Linked DNA regions of Homo sapiens. The protein of the gene in region 3 interacts with the protein of the main gene of each other region in a pairwise test. Each region holds a gene or a part of one and is shown on either strand. Other genes may lie near its edges.

Region 1 (2,521 bases), on a different chromosome or scaffold from region 3:
ACCCAAAAATCTGAGAACCCCTCCCCTTTTCTCCTCACCTAAACCCATCTCCTACTTTGGGCGCAGCACACATATTTTCTTGTCAACTTTTCCCCAAGCCCACCAACTTGGATTCAGATTGCGACATGCAGGACAGGCCAGTCATTCTCTCTCTCTGACTTTCTGTTTAATCATCTGTGGGCTAATTCCCCCTTCTCTGGTGCCATAAATTATGTGGCTCATAGTAGGTGCACCATCCAAGGAGAAGGTCCCTTTTTCCAACTTGTAATGATCACTAATTATTATTGCCGGCTGTCATGTCAGCCTCCTTACCAGCCACTTTCCTTTGGAAATAACTTTTTTATTGTTCCACAAATAGTATGTGCTCATTGTAGTACATTTTTTAAAAACCACAAATGAGCAAAGATTTTTTTAAAACCTTAAATGTCTGGCCGGGTGTGGTGGCTCATCCCTATAATCCTACACTTTGGGAGGCCAAGGTGGGCGGATCACTTGAGCTCAGGAGTTTAAGACCAGCCTGGGAAACGTGGTAAAACTCCGACTCTATTTAAAAAAAAAACAAAAACAAAAAAACCTTAAATGTCAAAAAAAAATAATATTTTCACCATCCAGACGTCACCATTATAAATTCTTAGTTCAGGGCTGGGCGCGGTGGCTCATGCCTGTAACCCTAGCACTTTGGGAGGCTGAGGCGGGCAGATCACTTGAGGTTAGGAGTTTGAGAACTGGCCTGGCCAACATAGCAAAACCTCATCTCTACTAAAATACAAAAATTAGCCGGGCGTGGTGGTGCGTGCCTGTAGTCCCAGCTACTCGAAAGGTTGAGGCAAGAGAATCGCTTGAACCTGGGAGGTGGAGGTTGCAATGAGCCGAGATCACACCACTGCACTCCAGCCTGGGCAACAGTGAAACTCCATCTCAAAAAATAAATAAATAAAATAAATTCTTAGTTCATACCCTTCCAGAATTCTCTCTCTTTTTAAAACCTAGATGAGATTAACCTGTTTTTTATTCAACTGTTGTCTCTACCTTCCCAATTTGATCAATTTTCATGTCATTGGCTGGGTGCGGTGGCTCCTGCCTATAATCCCAGTACTTTGGGAGGCCGAGGCGGGCAGATCACTTGAGGTCAGGAGTTCAAGACCAGCCTGGCCAACATGGTGAAACCCCATCTCTACTAAAAATACAAAAATTAGCTGGGCGTAGTGGCGCGTGCCTGTAATTCCATCTACTCGGGAGGCTGAGGCAGGAGAATCGCTTGATCCTGGGAGTTGGAGGTTGCAGTGAGCCAAGATCTTGCCATTGCACTCCAGCCTGGGCAACAAGAGTGAAATTCTGTCTCAAAAAAAAAAAAAAAATTCATGTCGTCTGATACTTTGACCTTAACCAGATTTCTCTAGTTGGCCCCAGAATGTCCTTTCTTGCTGGTTTTATGAAAACTAGCATTCAGATTCAGAGCACATGTTACATCTGGTTGTTTTATGGCCCTTAAATCTCTTTAGTGCGGTCCCTTTTTTCCTGAGACCAATTTGTTGAAGAGGCCAGCCCAGTCACCCCACAGGAAGTATGCTACCTTTTGGGTTTTTCTGCTGGCTTCCTGGTGGTATGATTTAACATGTCCCTCTCTTCCAGTTTTCCTGTCAGCTGAAAGTTAGATCTCATTTGCTTTGGGATCTTCCTTCAATCCTCTCCACAAGGCTCTGATGTGGTTACTCTCTACCCCCATTTAGGCAGAGGAGAAAACAGAGTCTGAGGGTACCAAGATGGGCCAACAGTCCCAGCTTCAGGGCCCATGTTCTCTCACCCACCTCTGGCCTGGTTCTCCTCCCCAGTCCCTGACACCTGTCTGGGGTCGGTGGTGCTGAGCCCGGGGCTGGCCTCTCCCCTTCTCTTTCCTGCAGTCCTTATCCAGCAGCCCTCAAGCCCAGCCCCCTCGGCCAGCAGAGCTGTCAGATGAGGAAGTGGCTGAGCTCTTTCAGCGGCTGGCAGAGACACAGCAGGAGAAATGGATGCTGGAGGAGAAGGTGCTGCCTGCCTGCCTGCCTGCCCATCCCCACTTGAAGTGCCCTTGTGGGTGTGGGGTCTGCCCGGGCCCGCCTCATGTGTGAACATGTACAGTAGAGGGGTCTCAGGTGGGCTGGGCCATCTTGCAGGTGAAGCACCTGGAAGTGAGCAGTGCTTCCATGGCAGAGGACCTCTGCCGGAAGAGCGCCATCATTGAGACCTACGTCATGGACAGCCGGATCGGTCAGTGTCCCCTCCCCGGCCCTCAGCCCTGGTCCAGCCTTCACCTGGCCCTCCCTCTCCATTCTGTGCTGCGGCTTCTCTCCTCTCCTCTCGGAACTCAGCGAAGCTACTGACAAGACCATGGCCTGTGGAGGGGAGAACAGGAAAGCACTGTCTCTTGATCTCGCCTCCTCCCTCTTCTCTCTTTCTCTGTCATCTCTCCACTCTCCATTCTCCATTGTGTCTCTCTGTCCACTTTCTCCTTTCCTCTCCCTGTGCCTCATCTTCCTCTCCT
Region 2 (3,500 bases), on a different chromosome or scaffold from region 3:
AAGACCTTTTATTTTACAGATTGCCAATATATCCCTTATTAACATTGCTAAAAGTTGTAATTTCAGACATAAATGTTTATTAGTGTCTACACACAGTGCTAATTATCACTCACTCACAGAGCCAGATGCTGACTGTGCAGTTTTGTGGCTCTGCGCTCACCCCATTTACATTGCATATTCGTTGGCATGCTTCACTGGCAATAGTTTGTGTAATTGGGGTATTACATCTTTGACATCTGGATAACAGAAATTCAATTTCCAGGAAGCTGCTATTTGTTTGGTTTTGCTTCTGCCTTGGGTGGGATAGAGGATTAATGTGCTGTCTTATAATGTCCCTTCACCTCTGTGGCCCAGTTGCTAATCCTGCCATGACAAAATTAAATTAAATCTACAGTCAAAAAGCATAAGGAAAATAAAAGTGTGACTGTCTGCCTAACCAGCTCTTGATAGTGCTAGTTATCATCAAGCAGCTCCTCATTTTCCTGACTTTGTGCTCCTTTCACACCAGCATTTTGGGACAGGGGGAACAGCATGCTTTCCTCTTACCATCCTTGTTCCCAGCTCACGTCAGGGATGAGCAGAGCTAAAACAGCATTTCTGAGACTTTCCAGCAAGTGTAGCTGCATGATGGGTGGGTAGGTAGCCACAAACATTGCCACCTTTTCCATGTGCAGTGTTGGTGCAAATACTGTACAGGAAAGACTTTGGATGTGCAGTTTTTTATTTGCACACAATCAGCCAAAAATGAAACCACGTAAGATTTTGCCTCTAAGAGTGAAGTACCCATAAGGTCAGGGTGGAGAGTAGATGGTGGCGTTGGGCCTCAACCTTGTCCATCTTGGACCTCTGCAATCCCAGGTAGCAGGGTGAGGGCACAGCACTGCACAGCAAGGAAGCAGAACATGAGAGAGGTCAGAGCGAGAACGATTACAAGCAAAGCCACAATTACCCCATCAAGGGGGACTTCAGGTAGCAGGACTGCTGCTCAGACCCGGTGTGGGTCAGCCTTCAAACGAAGCTCTCGCCAGGATCTCTCTGGTTTTGCTTTGAGGGATAGAAAGGGTGGGTCGGGATGCATTGGGAAGAAGTCAAATATTAATATATACTTTAAGAGGAAAAATAGGAGGGAAATGTCAGCATTTCTTACATGAGCGATCATTGATAGCACATAGATCTTTCTGCTGAGGGAAAGAATATCACTGGGGCCAGCACTGCTCCCAGTACCTGTTTACTGTTAAGAGAGCTAGGAGCCAAAAGGTTAATAATCAAGTGAAATGCTGTGGCCCAGAAAGAGAATATTCTTGGATTCTAGTCTTTCCAGTCCCCTAAACTTGGTCAGTTGGAATTCTTTTTTTTTTTTTTTTTTTTTTGAGACGGAGGTTCACTCTTTTTATCCAGGCTGGAGTGCAATGGCATGATCTCGGCTCACTGCAACCCCTGCCTCCCAGGTTCAGGCGATTCTCCTGCCTCAGCCTCCTGAGTAGCTGGGATTACAAGCACCTGCCACCACGCTTGGCTAATTTTTTGTATTTTTAGTAGAGACAGAGTTTTACCATGTTGGCCAGGCTGGTCTCAAACTCCTGACCTCAGGTGATCCACCTGCCTCAGCCTCCCAAAGTGCTGGGATTACAGGCGTGAGCCACCGTGCCTGGTTGGTCAGCTGGAATTTTGTATTATCAAAGTACCACTCTATATAGCCATTCGAAATAACGAATTTACCCTTTAGTAGAAAATTTACGTTCACCATACAAAGGGAACATCATGTCCTTGATTTAGTTCTCCAGCAAGGCAGGCTTTCCCGCACTTTCTGTTGTGTACTACTAGAAAAGTGGTAAGGTCACTACGAAGGAAGTGAATTGTAAGGATAAGAGAGGGGAAGCTGAAGAGCAACAGGATGCTAGTGCCCAGGATTCAGTAAGCTGGAAACTCCCAGAGATGATAGACGTTGTTGCTTTTCTTCTTCCTAGTCCAAGTTGAGGAAGATGCAAGAATTCCAATGAAGGACCAGGCTTGAGATAGATACGCTTTCAAAGTGGTTGCTCCAGAAGGCCTTCAACATCAAGAGACAAAAGATTGAACAGCCTGGGAGTGTGCTGTGGGTTATTTTCAATCTTTTGCTCATTCTTGGGTCATCATGTAGTTGGTTCCCAAATAACATTTTTATTTTGTGATCTCTAGGTCAGTTAAGAAAAAATAACAGAAATTGTCACAGCAACATGATTTCTGGAGCAATTGAGAATAGTTACTGATGGCATCTGAGAGTAGGAATTTTTTGTTGACAGTGTTATAGTTTATAGTTTTATAGTTACACTTTTCAAAACATAAAGATTTCAATTATGTTTATTTTATAAATTGCTAAAGCCTGTCCATAAAGATGTAGAATTATATGGGAAGCTTATGACATCCAAGGGGGTTTGGTACCAAAATACTAGAACTCTTTCCCCTATAACAAAGTACTGACACACTGTCCCAGGGATGGTCTATAGGATTTTCTACATTCAAACATATGTGTTCCCTTTAATAGTATCTGCATCTATAAGATCAAAGTTTATGTTCTAGGTGAAAAAGAGTCTTCTAGAATGTGGCAGAGGTTCCCACATCAAGTCTACCTCTCTGGAACATGTTTAGGCTGTTAACGAACGTAGTGTATCTCACATGGTAGGGTAGCTCAGTAGTGTAAATGGCTTGGCCTCGTGCTTTAGGAATTACTCACATATTTTTAATTGGATAATAGGGTCAGAAGACGTTACTTTACCCTGTGGACATTGACTTTCTCAAGCTGGCTGTGATGGGACTACAGTGAAGATTTAAGCACTGTTTGAAAGGAAACAGTTCTCTTAAATCAGTTCAGCCAGTGTCTTTATAGAAGATACTCTGAACTCAGCACTTTTCTGGAATGGGAGTGGGGTCAGAGATAGTCACAGAAATGGATAGGACAGGGACCTTGTTCTCAGGGATTCAGATCCAGCTGGGGAGGAGACAGGACAAATTCAGGAAACGGAGCAGTATTCAGCAATCGTAAGAGCTACAGTTGTTTGAGCACTTAACTGTGTGCAAGGCAGCACACTGAGCACTTTACATGAAAGACCTGATTTGCTCTTTGCAGCATGTCTGTATGAGTTACCGTCATCCCCATTTTGTAGATGAGCCTAGAGATGTCGAGGTGACCTGCCCAAGGTCTCTCAAGTAGGAAGTGCCACAGGTAGGGTTCCAGTGCAGGTCTGTCTGAGCTTTGAACACTCCACTTAACCGCCTGTCTGTGAACGGTAATTAAATGACAAATGTGAATGATCAGGGCAACAGCAAATGCAGAGTTGGAAGGGGTAGAGGGGAGGGCTCTGCAAAGCAGAGATGTTGAACTACAGGAAAGATTCGCTCCTGTATTTCTCCTCCCTGGAGAAGATTCCAGGTGGGAAGGGTGAGGGAGCCGCCAATAAGCATCATTATAGCTCGACCATGAGTGTTGCACTTATGGTTTAGAAAGTGCTTTCACATCTGTC
Region 3 (3,500 bases):
CTAGGTCCGATTTCTTTCTATAAGATAAAAATGCCTAATTATTTACTACTAACTCATGCAAGTTCCTGAGAAAATAGCAAAATAACTGGCTGCTCAACATTCACTATTAGAGCTTCAATGTGCCTTTGGAGGTCATACATTAGCTTCAGTTTCTTCATCACTTTCATTATCAGAAATGAAATGAGAATTGTGTCAGATGGTATTTATGGTTCTTTTCAACTCTAGATGGATACACACATCTAGGGAATAATAACTCCTCCCCCCCACCATTTTCCAGAAAGAAGGAATTCTACCTTCTTCATCAAGTCCACCGATGATGTTGTAAACATAGTATGGAAAGAAGCGCCTTGAATACAGGATTGTAGACAGCATTGCAGCAATTGCCCCCGTAGTCATGGCCTTATTATTGGAATGCTTATACATCTGCAATTATTGATAAAAGTCACAGGCATGTAGAGGCAGAGGCCATTATAGACTAGAACAATCAACAGTATAAAGTGAATAAATAAATGCATACCACAGTGGAAGGGGAAAGCATGCCTATTTCCTTCATGATCAACCAACACAGTATTACTAACATAAAATTTTAAGGGAAGGAATGCCAAGTTTGCCCTCAGCTCTCTGGTTTAGACTCTATTTTCCATACCACCCTTATCTCAGGTACTGCTAATCCAAGAGCTAATGTGTATGAAAGGGCACATGAAGTGGCCTAAGGAAGATGGGTTTAAATCCATCTCTCTCCCTCACTCTGCATATAGACCAGGGGTCAACAAACTACCCCTGTAGTTTGGCTCAGGGGCCAAATCCAGCCTACTCCCTATTGCTATGAATATTGTCCGTGGCTGCTTTTTCACTACAGAAGCAGATCAAATGAGGCCCATAAAGCTGTAAATATTTACTATCTGGTCCTTTACAGAAAAATTACGGCAATCCCTGATCAAACCTAGATGTAAGTCCCTCTCTTTGTGGAGCAGATCTCTGTGAGAACAGAAGACACAGGGCAGCACCCTTACTCTGCATGATTTTAATACACAGCAGTGGTCGTGATCCTTAAAACATCTACAGTAGAGAACACAAGCATCCAAAACAGGGTCTTAGCATGACAATACAGTGACTGCAAATCCTAGCTTTACTATACCTTTGCGAGCCCTACATTACCCACTGGTAGAGAAACTTCACAAAAATTATAAACATAAAATGAATTCAAGATCACCAATTTTTGTTAACCACATAGCAAACATCTCTAATGAGAAACTTAATGGCCAGGCATAGTGGCTCACACCTGTAATCCCAACTGAGGCGGGAGAATGTTTGAGCCCAGGAGATGAAGGCTACAGTGAGCTACAATGGCGCCACTGTACTCCAGCCTGTGCAACAAAGTGAGACGCTGTCTCTAAATAAATAGACAGATAGATATCTAACTAGCACCGTAAAATTAAATAATGACAGTCAAAACACTGAAAAATGATTAGAAATGAACTACAAGTAACAGGTAAGTTTTTTATAGAGGAATGCCTTTCCAAGATAAAAACTATAAAAAATTATTCATAGGCCGGGCACAGTGGCTCACTGCTGGCCTGTAATCCCAGCACTTTGGGAGGCCGAGATGGGTGGATCACCTGAAGTCAGGGGTTCGAGACCAGCCTGGCCAACATGGTGAAACCCCGTCTCTACTAAAATACAAAAATTAGACAGGGGTGGTGACAGGTGCCTGTAATCTCAGCTACTCGGGAGGCTGTGGCAGGATAATCACTTGAACCCAGGAGGCAGAGGTTGCAGTGAGCCAAGATCATGCCATTGCACTCCAGCCTGGGCAACAAGAGTGAAACTCTGTCTCAAAAAAAAAAAAAAAAATTTCATTCCATTTCATTTCGAAACCAAGCACCAACATTTATTTACTTCACCACCTAATAAAGTATGAGAGAAAAACTTCAGGAAGGGGTGTGTATTATGTAGAATTCACCATTCCTTGTTTTATTAACAATATCATGTTTACTTTTGTCTTCTAACTCCCATTTATAAAATAAGCATTAGGAATTATCATATAAATATGCCAATAAATGTAAGTCACTATGGCTTTCAATGTAAGTTTCTAAAAAAGCATTAACAATTGATAAATACTGAGTGAAATCCTTTCTACACATTCAAAAAGCATGTGTCAGTTAAATAAATATACTATATACTCCAGTAACCACTCATAAGTGTAAATAATCTCAAGTGTTATTCATGAATAGGCAAAACAGAATGTGATCACCCCTGACTTCTGGCAGCTGGCTATCAACTGAAGCTGGTCAGGTGACAGACGTTAATGGTGCATGTTGTGCCTCCCATCCAAGCTCCCAGCTTATTCATTCTTTCGTATTTCTACTCATGCATCCTGCCAACTAAGAGCACAGCACTGTAAAGAGGAAAAGCTTGTCAACTGATGGTGATGCAAACCAAGCTCCTGTGTCAAATCTTTCCTGGGCTCTCTCCTGCCACAGAAATTGATTTGCTTTGTTTTTGAGGGAAGAGTATCTTCAGAAGAAGAACTCCTCCCAGGCTCCTTCTAAAAGGGTAGAGAACCCTTCATATGATACAAGACTTTAACAAATGGAATGTGCTGCTGTTTCACATTATGCTACTTTAATGACCCTGCATTAATGATATCATTTCATTTCTAGCATACATTTGTAATTCATCTACTAACCTAGTGACTCTCTAGCTATCTGACCAACAGTCATGCTGTAGGCTTAAAAGAATTTAATGAATTACTATTAATTTAAAATAGTGTAGAAATGTACAAAAGCATCTACCTTTAGTCTTGCTTCAATAATCTTTGTCAGCGTAAGACAGTCTCCATGAAAACCGCTGCATCCAATGACTGTTTTGTCTGTTCTGTAAAAAGCACATTTCAGAAAACTGAGCTGGTTAGATAGTAGAGCAAAACATATCTTCGGCAATTTTAAATTTAAAATTCTGATTCCCACTATTCCCTAAATGGTAATGGGACAAACAGTCACCCTTCTGGGGAGGAGGGGTCTGTATTCCATCTTACCCCTTATTCCAGATGAATTACAGGTGGATCAAAGACTTTAAAAATGCGACTATGAATGGACTAAATAAATCATGGGTGAATTTTTTTTACTATCTTGGGCTGAGGAAGATACGTAGGTAGGTTAATTGACTGATTTTTGAGACGGAGTTTCGCTCTTGTCACCCAGGCTGGAATGCAGTGGCGCAATCTTGGCTCACTGCAACTTCCGCCTCCTGGGTTCAAGCAATTCCCCTGCCTCAGCCTCCCAAGTATCTGGGATTACAGGCACCCGCCACCACACCCAGCTGATTTTTGTATTTTTAGTACAGATGGGGTTTCACCATGTTGGCCAGGCTGGTCTCAAACTCCTGACCTCAGGTAATCCACCTGCCTTGGCCTCCAAAGTGCTGGGATTACAGGTGTGAACCACTGCACCCAGCCTCGTGAAGGTAGATTTAAACAACACAATCCAAGGGCCACACAG
Region 4 (3,500 bases), on a different chromosome or scaffold from region 3:
CCTTTGTTGAATAATAACAGAGGAATGGACTTAGTTTCACAGAACTCCCATTCGACAGGACAAATAATTCTTTTTGACAAGGTATTAAGCATCATAATTTTCTCTAATAACACAATGGGTATTTCTTATTTAAAGATTCATTAGAGGGTTAACCCCTAATCAGAGTTTAGATACAATTTTGAAAGCAGTGACAGGCCTGGCTAGGTGGCTTATGCCTGTAATCCCAATACCTTGGATTGGGAGGGCTGGAGGCAGGAGGGCTGATTGAGTCCAGATTGAGACCAGCCTGGGCAACATGGTGAGACACCATCACAAAAAAAAAGAAAGAAAGCAGAGACAAACAGAAACAAAACAAATCTTCCGTGATTCACAGTAATTTGGGAGTAGAAAAATGAACAAATAATTTTTATCTTATATGAAAATAAAACATAAAAGTAAAAACAAGGGGATTATTGCAAAATCATTTACCTGAATTATTTTAGTAATCATCAAAGTGAGCTAGACAAAGGAACTTTACCTGTTTGGGACAAACCACTGGAGCCAAGTGTGCCTGAAAAGTACTTCTTCGGTCTGTAATAGGAATGCCATGATCAATCGGAGGTAATTCTTCTACTTCTACTTCTAGAAATGTAAAAGAAACTTTATTTTTTAAAAAGCCTTACATTCAAATACTGAAAAAAATGAAATGGGGGGGCAGCTGGGAAAGAAATGTAAATTACATGGCAAATCAACTAAAATAACCATTAATCGCTATCTACCAAAATTAAATTTAAATTATAATTTTAAGTAAAAAGTTTCTAACTATATTGTACATAAGATTAAAATACTTGATTTATAAATGATTTCCACCTGCCAAGGTTACCCAGGGGAAGCAGTGGGTTGGGACTAATCTTGAACTGCTGCAGTCAGTAGTGTAAGTTGGTACAATATCTAATATATAATTTTTAAGAGTGTAAAGGAGTCCTGAAACCAAAGATTTATAGCTGCTAATATAAAATTTATTTATCAGTTTCACTGTTGTTAGACCTCTGAGTTGGGAAAACTATGAATTTATATTCTTTATATTGTGTAGCTATAATATAATGCCTTCTGCTAATGAAACTGTTTCTACTTCATATGATGGAATTAAATACATCAATAATACATCCAATTGGTATTCCTTAAAGAGCATCATGATTTCCAGTTATTATACCTCTTAAAACAAGTTTAAGGATCATGGCTGGGCGTGGTGGCTCACGCCTGCAATCCCAACCCTTTGGGAGGCCGAGGGAGTGGATCACCTGAGTTCAGGAGTTTGAGACCAGCCTGGCCAACATGGTGAAACCCCCGTCTCTACTAAAATACAAAAATTAGCTGGGCATGGTGGCGTGTGCCTGTAATTCCAGCTACTCGGGAGGCTGAGGCAGGAAAATTGCTTGAACCTGGGAGGCGGAGGTTGCAGTGAGCCGAGTTTGTGCCATTGAACTCCAGCCTGGGCAACAGAGCAAGACTCCATCTCCAAAAAAAAAAAAAAAAAAAAGAATCACTAATTAACCCTCAATTCTGTTGAGAGACTTAATCGTCCTGGCTACTACTACCTGCCTCACTTAGGATGAAAAGTTATTCAAGACAAGAAAGTAGGTTTATGTAAGATGTTTTACACCTTCCCTCTGATACTGTTCTTTTCCTGAATTGATTTTGACTGCTGTACTAACATAGTAATAAGTCAAATACAGTATTAGGGTCAATATGAACTACTGACCAATTGATAGTATTTATTTATGAGTATGATTTTTATCCTTTTTCTTTTCATGGTAGATCCTGTTTTCAAAAGATATCATATGTCAAATCCACACACAAATAAATGATTAAAATGGGAGCTACTTAGGCTAGAGCATAAATGAGAGCCCTGGATGCTCCCCACTCTTTCATTTCCTCTTTGTTCCCTTCTACTAGTCCTGGACACCATTCAAAAGCCTTAAAACTCAGAGCACCTTTTAAAAGCTACTGTGTAATGACACAGGAAACCCCTCACCTTCAAACAGAATGAATATTCCCCCTGGTCTACCATGTTTTCCTAAGAGGCTTAGGGAAACTAACAATAACATTCAAAATTTTAAAATATTAAAATGAAACATAATATCACAGCAACCTATTTTTATGTTGAATACTACTCGATTACGAAACAAATTTGTTTAAACGAAAACTAGGCCGGGCGTGGTGGCTCACGCCTATAATAATCCCAGCACTCTGGGAGGATGAGGTGGGTAGGTCATTTGAGGTCAGCCTGGCCAACATGGCGAAACCCAATCTCTACTAAAAATACAAAAATTAGACAGGCATGGTGGCATGTGCCAGTAATCCCAGATACGTAGGAGGCTGAGGCAGGAGAATCACTGAACTTGGGAGGCAAGGTTGCATTGAACTGAGATCGTGCCACTGCACTCCAGCCCGGGCAACAGAGCAAGACTCTATCTCAAAAAAACAAACAAACAAACAAAAACTGAACTCAAGCTGGGCACAATGGTGCATGCTTGTAGTCCCAGCTACTCGGAGGCTGAGGTAGAAGGATCACTTGAGCCCAGGAGTTCAAGGTCAACTTGGGCAACACAGCGAGACCTTGTCTCTCAAAAAAAACCTCTTAAAGGCATTTTACTAGCTTTAATTTCCAGGGCTGCACTTTCAGTTAATATATTTGTATTTGTGAGCACAGACTAAAATTTAATCCTGAAACATCAGGAAACAGCTAAGGATTTCAATACAGAAATATAAAAACATGATGTTAACTAAAAACGTTAATAGCCTTTCTTAGTTTCAATTTCTTCCATCACTAAATCAAAACTCTAGAAAGTAGGGGGAAAAGAGTAAATTTCCATTTTTTCCTTGCCATTCTGATAAGACTTGGCAAACACCAAAATTGCCAACAGGCAGGAAAAAATTAATCTTATCTGCAAATTAATAACTCCTTCCTAAAACTGGAGAAAATTAGTAAATTTCTCTATCATCTCAAAGAACAATACATAATACTACCAACCCACTCTCCTCAAAAGAAATTAGTTAGTAACATTATACCTGTCCGAGTTTCACTGATATCAAAATCCAATGCTTTAAGCGAACTTTCCGGCTGACATGCTAAAATGAGATCATCTTCACATTCAACATCTTCCTCTTCAGTTTTCTTCTTTACATCTGGGCCTATGTGAATATGAGACACAATTACTTTATGACGCAGGTAAGAAACGATGCTTTTTAAAAAAAAATCACTGGGTCTTGGGTTCTAAATACCACTCTTCAACGAAAGGAACCAGCACTCAGCCCGTAGGAGAACTGGTTGATTCCTGAGTTGGAGCAAGGAAACTACAAGATGAACCTGGAACCTCATGTGGATCCACAAACTGGGAAATGCTCAAAAAGAGATGGGGCTTATAAAAAGAACACAGGAGTTAACCTGAAGGGGCTCTTAAAGGTCAAAGCTAGAACAATTTGAGCAACAAAAAAATATGATAGGATGGCATTTTAAC
Region 5 (3,500 bases), on a different chromosome or scaffold from region 3:
GGTTTCACCATGTTGGCCAGGCTGGTCTCAAATTCCTGGGTTCAAGCGATCCACCAGCCTCAGCCTACCAAAATTCTGAGACATGGCAGAAGCCCATCTCTACAAAAAATAAAAAATTCGCTGGACATGGCAGCACTCACCTGTGGTCCCAGCTACTTAGAAGGCTGATGTGAAAGAAAGGATCACCTGTGTCTGGGAGGTCGAGGCTGCAGCAAACTGTGATGGCACCACTGCCCTCCAGCCTGGGTGATAGAGTGAGACCCTGTCTCCAAAACAAAAAAAAAAAAAAAAAATTCATATCCCCCCCGTATTAAAAAATATTAGCTATCAACTCTTGAAATGTTAATTTTAATACAAAAACATAGACTAGTATTTCCCTTATACTACACTTTCATCGTAATTCTTTTTTTGAGATGGGGGGGCGGTTCTTGTTTGGTGCATAGGCTACAGTGCAGTGATACAATCATAGCTCACTGACATCTTAAATTCCAGGACTCAAGTGACCCTCCCACCTCAGCCTCCCAAGTAGCTGGGACTACAAGGCGCACTACTGACCTGGGCTAATTTCTAAATTTCCTGTGCTGGATTACAGGCGTGAGCCACAAGCCAAGCCCAGATTCTCAGTTTCGGAGAAAGGATAACTTAAGAGTTGTACATATGTTTGTATGTATGTATGTTTTTATTTATTTAGAGACAGAGTTTTTACTCTTGTCACCCAGGCTGGAGTGCAATGGCATGATCTCGGCTCACTGCAACCTCTGCCTCCTGGGTTCAAGCGACTCTCCTGCCTCAGCCTCTCAAGTAGCTGGGATTACAGGCATGTGCCACCACGCCCAGCTAATTTTTTGTATTTTTATTAGAGACGGGGTTTCGCCATGTTGGTCAGGCTGGTCTTGAACTCCTGACCTCAGGTGATCCACCCGCTTCAGCCTCCCAAAGTGCTGGGATTACAGGCATGAGCCACCATGCCTGGCAACTAAGAGTTTTAAAAACTTATTCTTGCATGAAAAGTGTAGGAAAAAAATTGAAATATGGCTTTAAAATATAATTTGAAAACTGAATTAAGAATTAAAGGGGGCCAGACGCAGTGGCTCATGCCTGTAATCCCAACAGTTTGGGAGGCCAAGGCAGGAGGAACACTTGAGATTAGGAGTTCGAGACTAGCCTGGGAAACATAACAAGACTCTCTCTCTACAAAATAAAAAAAATTAGCCGAGCATGGTGACATGCGCCTATAGTCCCAGCTACTTGGGAGGCTGAGGCAGGAGGACTGCTTGAGCCTAGGAGGTCGAGATGGCAGTGAGCCGTGACTGCACCACTGCACTCCAGCCTGGGTGGCAGAGTGACACTTTGTCTCAAAAATAAATAAATAAGAATTAAAGAGAAGAAGCCGAGTGCGGTGGCTCACGCCTGTAATCCCAGCACTTTGGGAGGCTGAGGCAGGTGGATCACGAGGTCAGGAGTTCAAGACCAGCCTGGCCAACATGGTGAAACCTCATCTCTACTAAAAATACAAAAATTAGCTAAGTATGGTGCCAGGCGCCTATAATCCCAGCTACTCGGGAGGCTGAGGCAGGAGAATCACTTGAACCCGGGAGTTGGAGGTTGCAGTGAACCGAGATCGCACCACTGCACCCCAGCCTGGGCGACAGAGTGAGACTCCATCTCAAAAAAAGGCCAGGCACAGAAGCTCATGGCTATAATCCCAGCACTTTGGGAGGCTGAGGTGGGCAGATCACTTCAGGTCAGGAGTTCAAGACCAGCCTGGTCAACATGGTGAAACCCCATCTCTACTAAAAATACAAAACTTAGCCAGGCCTGATGGCAGGTGCCTGTAATCTCAGCTACTAGGGAGGCTGAGGCAGAAGCAGCACTTGAGCCTGGGAGGTGGAGGTTGCAGTGAGCCAAGATCATGCCACTGCACTCCAGCCTGGGCAAGAGGGAGACTCCGTCTCAAAAAATTTATAAAATAATTAAAGGGAAGAAAATGGAAAGACCAAAAGCACTGCACCCACCAAGCTGTGAACAAAATAATAACTAAAGACCAAGAAACTAAATGACATATCTTGTATATAAAAAGATGCAGAAACTAGCAATTATCTGCAGGGTTATACAGCAAATCTGTTAACTATTGTGATGGGTGGGACAGCTGACAAAATGGGAAAAGCAAGCAGGTAAAAACTGAAAAACAGTCACAACCACAAAACAGTTTACCAGTAACCACTAACATTTTGTTTTTCAACATTTCTGTTGAAGGTAATGGACCTTTCCAGAAAAATGCACTGAAATGCCCACAAAATTATCAATTTCAAAGAATTCTCAGAAACCACTGTCTCGGCCTGGCATGGTGGCTCACACCTGTAATTCCAGCACTTTGGGAGGCCGAGGTGGGTAGAACACCTGAGGTCAGGAGTTTGAAAAGAGATGTATTCCCTGCCCCCGCACCGCCCCCCCACCTTTTTTTTAAATGTTCCCTAGGCTGGTTTCAAACTCCTGGGCTCCAGTGAGCCTCGTGCCTCAGGCTCCCAAAGTATTAGGATAATAGGCATAAGCCACCATGCCCTGCCCCCTCACCCCTTTTTTAAATAGTATTTTGTATGTCAGAGGTTCTTTTTTTTTTTTTTGACACAGTCTTGTCACCCCAAGCTGGAGTGCAGTGTCGCGATCGCAGCGCCAAAAATACCGAGGCATCCGGCCTCATCTCTTTAATTCTTATTCATTTTTGAGGCAGGGTGTCACTCTGCAACCCAGGCTGGAGTGCAGTGGTGCAATCACCGCTCACTGCCATCTCGACTTCCTAGGCTCAAGCAGTCCTCCTGCCTCAGCCTTCCAAGTAGCTAGGACTACAGGCGCATGTCACCATGCTCAGCTAATTTTTTTTATGTTTTGTAGAGAGACAGTCTTGTTATGTTTCTCAGGCTAGTCTCGAACTCCTAATCTCAAGTGTTCCTCCTGCCTTGGCCTCCCAAACTGTTGGGATTACAGGCATGAGCCACTGCACCTGGCCCCCTTTAATTCTTAATTCAGTTTTCAAACTATATTTTAAAGCCATATTTAAATTTGTTGAGGTGGGTGGATCACCTGAGATCAGGAGTTGGAGACCAGCCTGACCAACATGGGGAAACCCCATCTCTACTAAAAATTCAAAAATTAGCTGGGCGTGGTGGTGGGCACCTGTAATCCCAGCTACTTGAGAGGCTGAGGCAGGAAAATCGCTTGGACCTGGGAGGCGGAGGTTGCAATGAACTGAGATTGTGCCATTGCACTCCAGCATGAGTGACAGAGCGAGACTCTGTCTCAAAACAAAAAACCCCAAAAAAATCTTTACATCTGTATTACACTTCACAATTTACAAAAACCCTCCATATATATTTCCATCAGTATAATGAAGAAACTAAGGCCAAAAAAAGTTAGGTGAACATACAGTCACACAGGCATTTTTCTAGATATTCCATATCCTAAACCAAGTTCCCTTCCAAACCCTCAGCCATGACCCTTTT
Region 6 (3,500 bases), on a different chromosome or scaffold from region 3:
AGTTTGAGGAAAGAAATAATGAAATGATATACTATGGAAGAGGATGGAGCGATGGATATGACACAACAATATATTTCAGATCAAAATTTCAACCCATTATGAGTCCTAAACCCAATGTAGTGGGCTGGAACTAGGATTTCTTTAAATTAAATGCAGTAGTCCACCCTTATCCACAATGGTTTCAGTTACCTGTGGTCAACTACAGTCCAAAAATATTAAATGGAAAATTCCAGAAATAATTCATAAGTTTTTAAATAGTGTACCATTCCGAGTAGCATGATAAAATCTTGCTATGTCCCATTCAGTGCTGCCCAGGATGCAGATTATCCCTTTGTGCAGTATATCCACACTGTATGCACTAACGTCCCATTAGTCTTTCAGTAGCTGTCCGTAGCTGTCTTGGTTATCAGTTCACTATAGTTGTATCACAGTGCTTGTATTCAAGTAACCCATATTTGACTTCATTATGACTCCACAGAGCAAGAGTAGTGATGTTGGCAATTCAGATATGCCAAAGAGAAGCCATAAAGTGCTTTCTTTTTTTGAGACAGAGTCTTGCTCTGTCACCAGGCTAGAGTGCACTGGTGCAATCTCGGCTCACTGCAACCTCCACCTCCCAGGTTCAAGTGATTCTCCTGTCTCAGCCTCCCAAGTAGCTGGGACTTCAGGCATGCACCACCACACTCAGCTAATTTTTGTATTTTTAGTAGAGACAGTTTCATCATGTTGGCCAGGCTGGTCTCGAGCTCCTGACCTCAAGTGATCCACCTGCCTCAGCCTCCCAAAAGTGCTGGGATTACAGGTGTGAGCCACTGCACCTGGCCAGCTTTAAGTGAAAAGGTGAAAGCTCTTGACTTACAAAGAAAATAAATTGCATGCTGAGGTTGCTAAGATCTCCTGTAAGAACAAATCTTCTATCCGTGAAATTGTGAAGAAGGAAAAAAAATTCACGCATAGTATATACAGGGTTCAGTACTATCTGTGGCTTCAGGCGTCCACTGGGGATCTTGGAACATGTCCCCTGCTGATAAGGGGGGACTACTGTATAATAAAATAGAATAGAAAATATCAGAATACATGACAGAAAATAAGGGTAGACAGTGTTTCAGTTGTGTGTATCCATTGGGTTGCAAGGTAAAATATACTTCTAACTGGCCTCAGAGACAAAGTCTGAAAAAACTATGTCATCGACTTTTCAGCCCAGGTAAAAATAGAAAAAAAAGGAAAAGGGAACACAAAACCATACAAGAATGGCAGCCAGAACCAACCAATATTCTCAACCCATTCCCTGAAGGTCAAAAGAGGCTGTGTGGTGCTGGGGGAAAGTCCTCCCCTAGCATCATGTGACTCCCCTTGCCAAGCCTTAGTTTTCTCATCTGTATAATGGGTGCTGTGAGCAGGGTGGTGGTTCAAGTCTTTTATCTAGGATTTCAAGACAAAGTATGGAATGATACAGGATGGAAATGGCCAGCTAGCATTCCAGTTTAGCTAATAATGAGGCAAGAGTGCAGTCACCATCATACAGTGGTCACTAGGAGACTGTTAGACTGACCACCATGTTAGGTCCTAACAGAGAACTAGGAGGAGAATCATCATGGAAGCAGAGCAGCTCTATGCACGAGCCCAGAACACAACTAAGGACAAGGAGCCCTAAAGATGGGAGCCCAGCAGGATCTCCTTGGAAGAGGAAGGGAGGGAGGGATGCCACTCTGAGCACTTCCAGACAAAGCCTTCTCAAGGCCCAGGGAGAAGGGGCTAGGGTCCCAGGAAAAAGAAGGTCCATGCACCATGCCCTCCACCCACCTGAGAACATTTATAAAGCAACATGCATTGAAAACAAATGCACTGAGTAAACTGCATTAAATTCTTCTCAGAACCACAGTAGGGGGAGAGGGTAGAAAAGGGAGAAGGACAAAGACTCAGGACAAATAATGTCAGATGATGAAAGGCAGAATAAGGAAAGAACATAGTTGGGGGTGACTAAGGAAACGCTTCCTAGCAAAACGAAGTTTATGACACCCATGTTCACAGTAGCATTATTCCCAACAGCTACAAGGTGGAAGCAACCTAAGTGTGATGGCTAATTGTATATGCCAGCTGGACTGGGCCTGAGTGCCCAGACACTTGGTCAAGCATTATTCTGGGTGTGTCTGTGAGGGTTTCTGGGTGAAATGAGCATTGAACTGGTGGACTGAGTAAAGCAGATGGCCCTCCCCAGTGTGGATGGGCATCATCCAATCAGCAGAAGGCCTGAAGAGAAGAAAAAGGGTGACCCTCCGGTGAGGAAGAGGGAACTCCTTCTGCCTGGTGGCCTGATGGCCTGTAGAATAAAACCACACCACCAGCTCTCCTGGGCCTCCGGCTTGCTGACTGCAGATCTCGTTGGTATCCATAATCCCATGAAACAATTCCTTAAAATAAATCTCTTAGGGCCGGGCGTGGTGGCTCACACCTGTAATCCCAGCACTTTGGGAGGCCGAGGCAGGCAGATCATGAGGTCAGGAGATCAAGACCATCCTGGCTAACATGGTGAAACCCCATCTCTACTAAAAATACAAAAAAAACTAGCTGGGCATGGTGGTGGGCGCCTGTAGTCCCAGCTACTCGGGAGGCTGAGGCAGGAGAATGGCGTGAACCCGGGAGGCGGAGCTTGCAGTGAGCCAAGATCGCGCCACTGTACTCCAGCCTGGGTGACAGAGCAAGACTCTGTCTCAAAAAAAATAAATAAATAAAATAAAAAATAAATATCTTGGTATAAAGAGATTTACAAAACATCCTATAGGTTTTGTTTCTCTGGAGAACCCCAACTGATATAACAAGTGTCCATTAACTGATGAATAAACAAAATGTAATACATCCATACAATGGAATATTAATCAGTTTTTGTGTGTGTGTGTGTGTGTGTGTTTTTGAGATGAGGTCTCGTTCTGTCGCCCAGGCTGGAGTGCAGTGGCACGATCTCGGCTCCCTGCAAGCTCCGTCTCCCGGGTTCATGCCATTCTCCTGCCTCAGCCTCCCGAGTAGCTGGGACTACAGGCGCCCACCACCACACCTGGCTAATTTTGTTTTTGCATTTTTAGTAGAGACGGGGTTTCACCGTGTTAGCCAGGATGGTCTCGATCTCCTGACCTCGTGATCCGCCTGCCTTGGCCTCCCAAAGTGCTGGGATTACAAGCGTGAGCCACCGCGCCTAGCTTTTGTTTTGTTTTTTAAAGAGATGGGGTCTTACCCTCTAGTTCAGGCTGATGCACAGTGGCATGATCATAGCTCACCACAACCGTGAACTCCTAGGCACAAGGGATCCTCCCACCCAGCCTCCTGAATAGCTAGGACTACAGGCACATGTCACCACACCCAGCTAGTTTTTAATTTTTTGTAGAGACAGGATCTCAGTAAATTGCCCAGGTCTCCAACTTCTGGCCTCAAGCAGTCCTTCTGCCTCAGCCTCCTGAGCTGCTGGGATTACAGGTGTTAGCCACCATGCTCAGCCTTATTCAGCT
Region 7 (3,500 bases), on a different chromosome or scaffold from region 3:
AGGACAGAATGAGAATAAGCATAGATTATAAAAGCTGACTACAGAACAAGCGACTTTAAATGGGGTCTCTGCCAGGAACTCCACTGCAGGCAGCCTTGCATCCTAAGTGCTGGGACGGTCAAGCAAGGCAGAGGCGGAAAACCCCTTCTCATTCAGATGAAACAAAAGCCAGTCAAGCAGCAGGCCAAGGGCGGACAGAGATCCAGAGAGGGACGGCATGTGACGTGGCAGGCCCTGGGCGCCGGGCACAGGGCGCGCGCTGCGGCAGCCTCTGCGTGTCACTGTGTGCCTGAGGCTTCCATGGTGAGGTGCTGGGGCACCCCTGCTCCTGGGATGCTTACACGTGAGTGGAAGAAGACAAACGGGAAGCATCATGAGTTATGCTGTATGCTAACGGCAGGAGGCGCTGTGCAAAGAAACAGGGCAAGGCCGGGTGGCAGGGGCACGCTGCACTTCCCACAGGGCAGCAAGGCAGGCCTCACCAGCACGGTGCCAGGGCAGGGCCCGCAGGATCTGGAGACAGTGACTCAGGGACAGGAAACACTTGCACAGCAGGCCTAACCAGGGGCCTGTCGGGCAGGTCAAGGGACAGTGTTAGAGGCCCAGATGAACAGAGGTTAGGGCCGGGTGCAGTGGCTCACGCCTGTAATCCCAAAACTTTGGGAGGCTGAGGTGGGCGGATCACTTGAGACCAGGAGTTCGAGAACAGCCTGGCCAACATGGTGAAACCCCATCTCTACTAAAAATACAAAAATTAGCTGGGCGTGGTGGTGGACGCCTGTAATCCCAGCTACTCGGGAGTCTGAGGCAGGAAAATCGCTTGAACCTGGGAGGAAGAGGTTGCAGTGAGTTGAGATTGTGCCACTGCACTCCAGCCTGGGCTACAGAGCGAGCCTCCATGTAAAAAAAAAAAAAAAAAAAAAGACCTCAAGTGAACTGGGAGGCAGGCCAGAAGCAGCGTATTCAGAAGGCAGCAAACAGAGGGCCAAAAACGAAGGAAAGCCGGAGGAAGGGACATCCACTCCCGGGCTGCTCAGCAGCCACTCCAGGAGCCAGGAGAGGGCGGGGTCCCACCTTCGAGGCACTGAGGACAAGTGACCGTCCACCGGGAGTACTGTCCACCTGGAGTACCGCCCACCTGGAGTTCCACACACACAAAAATAGCTGTCAGGACACAGAGAAAAGGCATGTACAAGCAAAAATCAAGTTTGCCAGCAAGGAAAATTCTAGATGAACCTGAAGCTAAAGGAAAGTGACCCCAAATGGAAGGCCCGAGACACCAGAAGGGATAAGAAAAGAGAAACACAGAAGGAAATCTAAACAAGCGCTGACTCGAGAGAAGTAACACATTCCTGCGGGAGCCCCAAGGGGAGGTAGCACCCACACAAGGCACAGCAGCACCCGCGCCAGGACGGGGCGGCCGAGGTCTCCGCGTGGATCCGGAGGTGGCACAGACAATGATTAACTTCTTCTTTATTTATTCTTTAGCCGGGCAGCCTCCGGAGCCAGAGTTCACTCAGAGACTCCCTCATGGCAGAAGCTGATAAGTGCATGTTACCATTTCCAGGGGAGCCCCTGTACTTTCCCAGCACAGTGTGTATGTACTTGAGATAAAACAACTGAATTTTTTAAAACTCCATTTAATAAATTCAAAAGGCAATGAGAGAAAAAAAATAAGAAAATGTAGGACAAATAAAAGCACCAAAGAAAACATGTAAAAAATCTGTAAATCTGTGTATCCATCTAGGCATCTCTTAACTAGAAAGATGAAACTAGCGCATTCCCATCAAAAGACTTAGTCTTCTTAGATTTGACTTTTTAAAAATCCAGCTACGTGCTATCGATGGTGCACGTGTCTTAAACAAAAGTTTTCAGAAAAATGTAAAATCATAGAAGGAAAAAGTACTAGGTGAATACTCTCTAAAAGACAGCTGGGGTGGCCATGCCAGTATCAGACAAAATAATCAAAGGCAAGAGGCCTTTATCTTCCAAGAGGCCCGTGGGTCCCCACACAGTGAAAAGATGTGATTTCCAGGCAAGCACAGCAATTCCACACCTGTACAGACTCACAACCCGGCCTAAAAAATCCAGCGCAAAGGTTCACAGGAACCCAGAGAGAAAGGACTCGTGAGGAGGCGGTGAGTGCGTTCCCCGCTGGCTCAGGTGCAGTCAGCAGGAACGGACGCCCTCCCAGGAGCAGCCCACCAGAGCCAGCGGAGACGGGTAAGTGCCACTGGCTCAGACACACAGGATGCAGGAAAATCCACGGGCTCTTCACAACACTCAGGGGAGAGAAAGCCCACACACATCTACAAAGAAAAGCAACTCTCTCCTTGAGGTACGGGAAGATGAGGGAAAAGCATCTCACTTGCCTTTCTTTCACGAATTGTGTTTCAGGACAGCCAGCCGACACCGGTTGATGGGGAAAGCTAATCTTTACAAACAATCCCAGTTAATAAACACCGAAGAAGTGATAAAGTTCAGAAACTACCCTCTGCCATCCCTAATGAAGTCACCGATTCGGCAGGAATTATCAACGATGTGAAGAGTGAGGGGACCTGGACAGGAACAGGCCTCTCAGGGAGGAAGGGAGGGGCCAGGCCGCCTCCAGCTGGACTCCATGGCCAACCAGCACCTCCAGAAGCAGGACAAGGAGTCAGAGCAGCCTGGACACGGCACAGCGCACCCACCTCTACCAAGGAGGCCTCTCTGACGGCACCGCGGTGGCTGCAGCGGAGTCTCCCGCAAACGTCCCGAGATCTCACTGCAGAAGGCAGGGGTCCACACGGTACTCCTCGATACTCCTCGCGGGGGCCCGCACGGTACCCCTCGCAGGGGCCCCCATGATACTCCTCACAGGGGTCCACACAGTACCCCTCGCAGGGGCCCCCACGGTACCCCTCGCAGGGGTCCACATGGTACTCCTTGCAGGTACTCACCCATGCTTTCTGATAATATGCAGACTATATTGAAAAAAGGTTATCTTTCCAAAATACTGGCCTTTTTGAAACGTGAGGGAAGCACTGCACAGGGCTGAAGCATCCCTTAGTGGCTATTCAGGGAACCATTATCCTGAAGATCTAAACACGGTATGATTCTCTCAGAACGATGTCGGGCTGGCTAGCTTCACACGTCCTCTCCACACCTACCCACCCGGGCCCCTGAAGCTCCCTCTACCCAAGGACAAAAGAACCCTCCCAGGACCCCATTAGCGGCCCCTCTGCTCCTTCACGGCCCATGGGATCTTGCCGTCTCCCCTTATCACTAGGGGGAGGCAACGGCTAGACCACAGTCAGGGTCTCCCGAGCCAGAGTCCTGCCCCCGGACCCTGGGGAGCATCTCTTTCTGCTGGAAAGCTGAGCGAGCGCCCTGCTTAACCTCCTGCCTCTCTGGCACCACAGGTGTAACAGAAAGAGGACATGATAAATACTGTGTCAAGACATCCTGCAAAAGCAGGGCTCCTCTAGGTGCTAGTAACTGGGTAAAGGCCCACTATGGGT

What was found.
Region 1: the proteins of PSMB1 (region 3) and GRIPAP1 interact in binary tests that used the Homo sapiens proteins (3 or more experiments, as listed by UniProt).
Region 2: the proteins of PSMB1 (region 3) and BEND7 interact in binary tests that used the Homo sapiens proteins (3 or more experiments, as listed by UniProt).
Region 4: the proteins of PSMB1 (region 3) and IMPACT interact in binary tests that used the Homo sapiens proteins (3 or more experiments, as listed by UniProt).
Region 5: the proteins of PSMB1 (region 3) and GPBP1 interact in binary tests that used the Homo sapiens proteins (3 or more experiments, as listed by UniProt).
Region 6: the proteins of PSMB1 (region 3) and PIP4K2B interact in binary tests that used the Homo sapiens proteins (3 or more experiments, as listed by UniProt).
Region 7: the proteins of PSMB1 (region 3) and TOLLIP interact in binary tests that used the Homo sapiens proteins (3 or more experiments, as listed by UniProt).

Annotation. Positions count from the first base shown.
Region 1 is NC_000023.11:48,975,744-48,978,264, reverse strand, and holds part of GRIPAP1 (GRIP1-associated protein 1), read left to right. Parts: intron 1-1,901; coding exon 1,902-2,024; intron 2,025-2,153; coding exon 2,154-2,247; intron 2,248-2,521. UniProt on the Homo sapiens protein: Regulates the endosomal recycling back to the neuronal plasma membrane, possibly by connecting early and late recycling endosomal domains and promoting segregation of recycling endosomes from early endosomal membranes.
Region 2 is NC_000010.11:13,522,515-13,526,014, reverse strand, and holds part of BEND7 (BEN domain-containing protein 7), read left to right. Parts: intron 1-3,500.
Region 3 is NC_000006.12:170,543,308-170,546,807, forward strand, and holds part of PSMB1 (proteasome subunit beta type-1), read right to left. Parts: intron 2,878-3,500; coding exon 2,796-2,877; intron 424-2,795; coding exon 294-423; intron 1-293. UniProt on the Homo sapiens protein: Non-catalytic component of the 20S core proteasome complex involved in the proteolytic degradation of most intracellular proteins. This complex plays numerous essential roles within the cell by associating with different regulatory particles.
Region 4 is NC_000018.10:24,440,170-24,443,669, reverse strand, and holds part of IMPACT (protein IMPACT), read right to left. Parts: intron 3,175-3,500; coding exon 3,052-3,174; intron 622-3,051; coding exon 518-621; intron 1-517. UniProt on the Homo sapiens protein: Translational regulator that ensures constant high levels of translation upon a variety of stress conditions, such as amino acid starvation, UV-C irradiation, proteasome inhibitor treatment and glucose deprivation.
Region 5 is NC_000005.10:57,180,559-57,184,058, reverse strand, and holds part of GPBP1 (vasculin), read right to left. Parts: intron 1-3,500. UniProt on the Homo sapiens protein: Functions as a GC-rich promoter-specific transactivating transcription factor.
Region 6 is NC_000017.11:38,772,057-38,775,556, forward strand, and holds part of PIP4K2B (phosphatidylinositol 5-phosphate 4-kinase type-2 beta), read right to left. Parts: intron 1-3,500. UniProt on the Homo sapiens protein: Participates in the biosynthesis of phosphatidylinositol 4,5-bisphosphate. Preferentially utilizes GTP, rather than ATP, for PI(5)P phosphorylation and its activity reflects changes in direct proportion to the physiological GTP concentration.
Region 7 is NC_000011.10:1,303,133-1,306,632, forward strand, and holds part of TOLLIP (toll-interacting protein), read right to left. Parts: intron 1-3,500. UniProt on the Homo sapiens protein: Component of the signaling pathway of IL-1 and Toll-like receptors. Inhibits cell activation by microbial products. Recruits IRAK1 to the IL-1 receptor complex. Inhibits IRAK1 phosphorylation and kinase activity.